Regions from separate parts of the Homo sapiens genome. Here region 2 is linked to region 1. The links come from fine-mapping of genetic effects on plasma protein levels. A gene starts in region 1. The other region holds a variant in brackets. All regions are shown on one strand. Distances are between the middles of the regions. Region 1 holds the start of CCDC126 (coiled-coil domain containing 126). Region 2 has its middle 15 kb from the start of CCDC126.

Evidence for each region. A credible set is the group of variants that fine-mapping cannot tell apart. PIP is the chance, under the fine-mapping model, that this variant and not a neighbour inherited with it causes the effect. Protein levels are from the aptamer-based SomaScan assay of Sun 2018.
Region 2: its variant is the best candidate, but not a certain one, in a credible set for the plasma level of the CCDC126 protein (Sun 2018, PIP 0.54).

The regions. Positions count from the first base shown.
Region 1 is chr7:23,596,241-23,599,148 of GRCh38, forward strand. It overlaps CCDC126 (coiled-coil domain containing 126), which reads left to right and starts at 1,142. Exons shown (of 4, transcript NM_138771.4): 1 at 1,142-1,365; 2 at 1,727-1,811. It overlaps LOC105375187 (a long non-coding RNA gene), which reads right to left and starts at 1,085. Exons shown (of 2, transcript XR_927098.2): 1 at 877-1,085. RefSeq lists a silencer at 1,384-1,623.
Region 2 is chr7:23,580,592-23,583,499 of GRCh38, forward strand. No RefSeq gene overlaps it. Among named protein-coding and RNA genes, the nearest start is that of CCDC126, 15 kb to the right of the region's middle. RefSeq lists a silencer at 371-562. The variant T/G (reference allele first, on the strand shown) is at 1,327.

The DNA.
Region 1 (2,908 bases):
CTCACACATACACAGAAATTTATTGAGATTTTGTTGGGAATTGCACTGGCTCTGTAGGTAGGTTTGGAGAGACTTGGCATTTTTCAGTATTGACTCTTCCAATTTATGAACATGTTACATCTTTATTTAGGTCTTCTTCAGTGTCTTCCAATGTTTTCTTCAGGCAGGTTTTGCATTTCTTTGATCGATTTATTCCTAGGTACTTGATATTTGTTTGGAGCTGTTGGAAATGGTATCTTTAAAAAAATTATCTTTTTTACTAGCATATATAAATAAATATTGATTTTTTAAAATATGATTTTTGTATCTATTAACCTTGTTAAAAACTTTTATTGTTAACAGTTTATCTGCAGATTGTTTTGAAGTGCCACAAACAATTTTTTTTTTTTTTTGAGACGGAGTTCTGCTCTTGTTGCCCAGGCTGGAGTGCAGTGGCGCGATATCAGCTCACTGCAACCTCCGCCTCCTGGGTTCAAGCAATTCTCCCGCCTCAGCTCCCCGAGAGGCTGGAATTACAGGCGTCCGCCACCTCGCCCTGCTAAGTTCGTATCTGTAGTAGAGACGGGGTTTCACCATGTTGGCCAGGCTGGTCTCGAATTCCCGACCTCAGGTGATCCTCCCGTCTTGGCCTCACAAACTGCTGGGATTACAGGCATGAGCCAACGGCGCCCGGCCTCCACGTACATAATTACATAATCTATGAAAAAATAATTTTGTTTCTTCCTATTTAATCTTCAATCCTTTTATTTTTCTTGCCTCACTCCACTGGCTAAGGACCTTTGGCTTCAATAATGGGTAGTCTCATCTGTAGCACACTTAATCATCACTAAGCTTTCCCAGCCTCAGGTCAATAGTATTAGGAGGTTGGTTCCTCACCGGAGGGTCGGGAACAAGACGCCAGAGCCCTTCTTCCAGCGCCTGCAGCGAGTTAAGGCCGAGGGTATGCCTCTGGCGGGCTCATCTTCCAACACAGAAGACCCCGCCGCCCTCTCTGGTTGCCGCGCAGCTGCGTCGTTCTGACCCAGGGTAGGTGCAGGGCGGCTGGAAGCACGTGCCGCCGCTTCCTCATTCTGGGACTACATCCCCCACAATGCCGCGCGCCGCGGGCGGCTGGCCCCCGAGTGCGGGAAGGGCCGGCAGGGAGGCGGAGCGGAAGCCGAGTGCGAGGGACGAGCGGAGTAAAATCTCCACAAGCTGGGAACAAACCTCGTCCCAACTCCCACCCACCGGCGTTTCTCCAGCTCGATCTGGAGGCTGCTTCGCCAGTGTGGGACGCAGCTGACGCCCGCTTATTAGCTCTCGCTGCGTCGCCCCGGCTCAGAAGCTCCGTGGCGGCGGCGACCGTGACGAGAAGCCCACGGCCAGGTAATGAGTAAGGGGCGAGTCCGCCAGCCGGGCCCGCACCTCTCGCGCGCCCCTCAGCCTAGCCGGCCGCTCCTCCCCCGCCGCGCCCCCGTCCCCGGTCCCCGCCCCGCTAGGGCCGCTGCTGCGGAAACCCGGCTTAGGAACGGGCCGGCAGCCTCCGGCCGCGGCCGGGAAGGCTCTTTGTCCCTTCCTTTGGGCCGCGTCTCTGCCCCTCCGCGTCTGACAGCCGCGGCGCCTCGGCTCGGGCGGAGAGCCGAGCGTGGCTGGGGCTGCGCGAGTCGAGCGGGGCGGGCTTGGTCCGGAGCTGCGGGATGTAGATCCCGGGCGGCACCGCACTCACTTCTTTTTCTGTTTTTGACAGCTCAGTTCTCTTCTACTTTGGGAGAGAGAGAAAGTCAGATGCCCCTTTTAAACTCCCTCTTCAAAACTCATCTCCTGGGTGACTGGTAAGGATGAACTTAAACTGCCGTGTTGATTGTTGACTGTGACGGTAATGAGAATGGCTCAGCCAGCTAGGGTTCGAATCCTGCCTGGGTTTCTCTCACTGCCTGCCTTGGTGATCTTGGTTACTTAAAGGCTCTAAGCTTGAGTTTTCTCATCCATCAAAACACACACCTGTAAGTGGTTAGAATTAGGAATATAGACCTATAACGTCATTAGTTCTTCATTTGATGAAAAGATCCTTTGTGATACTTTCATTAGCTATGACTGAAGTGACCGAAGTGGCCTCTGGACTTGAGTTTTGTGCTTTTGTTTGTTTAATCATCCTGGGTTGTGTGTTCTTCACTTTATCTTAAACCTAACCAAAGGATTCATTAAAATATGCCGTCTTCCTAATTTTTGCTGTTTTAAGATGGCTGAGAATGTTCTTAGGAAATTGATGACTCTGCTTTTCTGTGGATCAGCTTCAGAGGTACAAGTATTCACCTCTCCCCTCCCCCTCAGGTGTGTCCTTTGGGAATCCTTAGAGGCGCTAAGTGTTTGTTTCGTCAGAGTAGGCATCCAGGTATTTTACAGTCCTGCCTCTGGGCTTCACCATATTTAACCTGGGTCAACTTTTTTCTACATCTGTCTGCATCTTCTCACTGATTAATAATTTCTCACTCTAAAATGTGTTGCAAAAATACTTGTTTTGAGGAAAATGTTTCTATGTTGGTGTTATTTAGTGCAGTGTAGGACAGAGAGTAATGGCTACGGAAATAGGAGTCCTTAGTTTTGTCCTTGCTCTGTCACTATCTGTGTAACCTGAGATTACTTTGTGGTCCTCAATGTCCTCATCTCTAAAATAGTGAATTGGTCTGATTCCAAGGACTCTTCTAGCTCAGACTTTCAATGATAAAGGTTTTTAGAGGTTTTTTTTTAAATGTGGAAACAAAATTTGTGTAAACCCTTTTAGTCATTTGTGTTCTTAGTGTTTCTTCCTGCTTCAGGTCATATAATTCTTTCAAACTACCTTGAAAGAAGGAATACATTTAAGAGAACAAGAAAGCTGCCAGAAATAAGAATCTCTACCAGCCAGTTATCACTCTCTCATGAGCTGCAC
Region 2 (2,908 bases), 16 kb before region 1:
TTCGTAAGCATATTTAAGACGCTAATTTTTTTGCAAGGAAAAATAAGAATATCTTTCTTTCATTCTTTTTAACTTTTATCTTAGATTTGAAGATACATGTGCAGGTTTGTTACTTGGTTATATTGCATGATGCTGAGGTTTGTGGTATGATTGATCCCATCACCCAGGTTCTGAACATAGTACCCATGACAGTAATTTTTGAATCCAATTTTTCTTTTTATTATCTGTGACCTAGAACAAGTTATTTAAAATTTTAAAGCCTTACTTTCCTCATGTAACGGAATGTTAAAATAGGACTCTTCTCTCAGATCTTTCCTGGGTACGTAAAAACATTTAAGAAAAAAAATAAAATAAATATAGCTGGGTGTGGTGGCTGATGCCTGTAATCCCAACATTTTTGGAGGTGAAGGCAGGAGGATTCCCTGAGCCCAGGAGTACAAGACCAGCCTGGGCACTATGGAGAGAACCTGTCTACAAAAAATTAAAAAATTAGTTGAGCATTGTGGTGAGGGCCTGTGGCCTGGGTGACAGTGTGAGACCGTGTCTCTCTCCCTCCCTCCCTCTTTTTTTTTTTTCGATGAGGTCTCACCATGTTGCCCAGCCTGGTCTCGAACTCCTGAGCTCAAGCTATCCTCCCACCTTGGCCTCCCAAAGTGCTAGGATTACAGGCATGAGCCACCATGCCTGGTCAGACCCTGTCTCGAGAGGAAAAAAAAGCCCAGGCGCGGTGGCTCATGCCTGTAATCCCAACACTTTGGCAGGCCAAGATGGGAGGATTGCTTGAGCCCAGGAATTCAAGAATAGCCTGGGCAAGACAGTGAGACCCCTATCTCTACAAAAAATTAAAAAGAATTAGCCAGGCATGGTGGCATATGCATGTAGTCCCTGCTACTGGGGAGGCTGAAGTGGGAGAATCACTTAAACCTGGGAGATAGAGGCTGCGATGAGCTGTGATGGCATCACTGCACTCCAGCCTGAGTGACAGAGTGAGACTCTGTCTCTTAAAAAAAAAAAAAAAAAAGAGAGAGGGGGTCTCACAATGTTGCCCAGGTTGGATCTTGGATCTGAACTCTTGGGCTCAAATAATCCTCCTGTCTCAGCCTCCTGAGTAGCTGGGACTACAAGTGTGTGCCACTGTGCCCAGCAAAAATCAGACTTTTTATTATCTAAGAGTGACCAGATAAGTCACAGGGCTTGCTTCTAAAGCAAGCCATCCCTCTAGAGCAGCTTTGAATGAAAAGCGGAGAAAAGAAAGCCAGTTGTTTTTCCAAATACAACTGTGAGTCCCGCCTGTTCAGTGTATCAACTATATTCATTTCTTTTTTA[T/G]TTTTTTAAATTTCTTTTTCACCTATATTCATTTCTAATACAACATAATAATAGGGTTTATCTCCTAGGTTGTTGAGAAAGTAACAGAGATAATGCAAGTAAAATGCTCAGAACAGTGTTTGATACAAGGAATGAGGTCATCTTAGACCATCTAGCCCCAGTCAGACTGCCTGATGATTGCAGCGGCATAAGTGATTCCAAGTAAGACTGGCAGGAGAACCACACAGTCAAACTCAACCCAAATCACTGATCCTCAGAACTGAAAGGCCTTGGAGCCAGGTGTGGTGGCTCATGCCTGTAATCCTAGCACTTTGGGAGGCTGAGGCAGGAGGATCCCTTGAGCCCAGGAGTTCAAGACCAGTCTGGGCAACATAGGGAGACCCTGTCTCTTAAAAAAAAAAAAAAAAAAAAGAACCTGATAGACCTTGGAAAAGAGCAGATGCAGAGGGTGCATGAAGAGCAATTGTTCCTGAAAGTACGGTCCTAAAGGATAGGACTCAGGCCAAGAGGTAGATGGAAGAAAGATTTCTTTTCAATATACAGAAGAACTTTAAAAATGAAGTTTCCTGAAGATTAAATAAAGTTCCTTTGAAAGTAGTGAGTTTACTATCACTTGAGTGTTTTGTTTTGTTTTGTTTTAAGCTGGATGACCTTCAAATGTCAGGGATGGTGTAGAATGAATGAATTCAAGTCTTGTATGGGTCCCTTTACCCTTACAGTTTTTGGAACCTAAGAAAACTCTGCACATCAATTTGGCCTGGAAGTTTTGAAAATACTTTCCTTTTATTATTCACTATAGTAACAATTTTAACAGTTTTCTATGAGTTTACAGCAATAAAGATGATTCATTAGAAACGTCTGTCACAGCTATTCCTTTTTGTCCTTTTAGTTTATAAAATTGCAATTAGCCAAGTAAAATTACTTTATCCTTGGGATTTATCAAACACACATATATATACTTTTTTTTTTTTTTGATACAGAGTTTCACTCTTGTTGACCAGGATGGAGTGCAATGGCACAAGCTCAGCTCACTGCAACCTCTGCCTCCCGAGTTCAAGCGAATCTCCTGCCTCAGCCTCCTGAGTAGCTGGGGATTACAGGTGCCTGACACCATGCCCAGCTAATTTTTTGTATTTTTAGTAGAAACGGGGTTTCACCATGTTGGCCAGGCTGGTCTGGAACTCCTGATCCACCTGCCTCAGCCTCCCAGAGTGTTGGTATTACAGGCATAAGCAACGGTGCCCAGCCATATATATATATATATTATATATATATATATAATATATATATAATATATAAATATATAAAATATATATATGTATATATAATATATTTATATATTATATATAAATATTTATACATATATAAATATTAAATATATAGATATTTATACATTTATAAATATTTATATAACTATATATAAATATATATATTTATATATATATTTTAAGAGACAGGGTCTCATTCTGTTGCCCAGGCTGGTGTGTTATGGCACTATGATAGCTCACTGCAGCCTTGAACTCCTGGCCAAAAGCCATCCTTCTGCCCCAGTCTCCCAAAGTGTTGGAATTACAGGCATGAG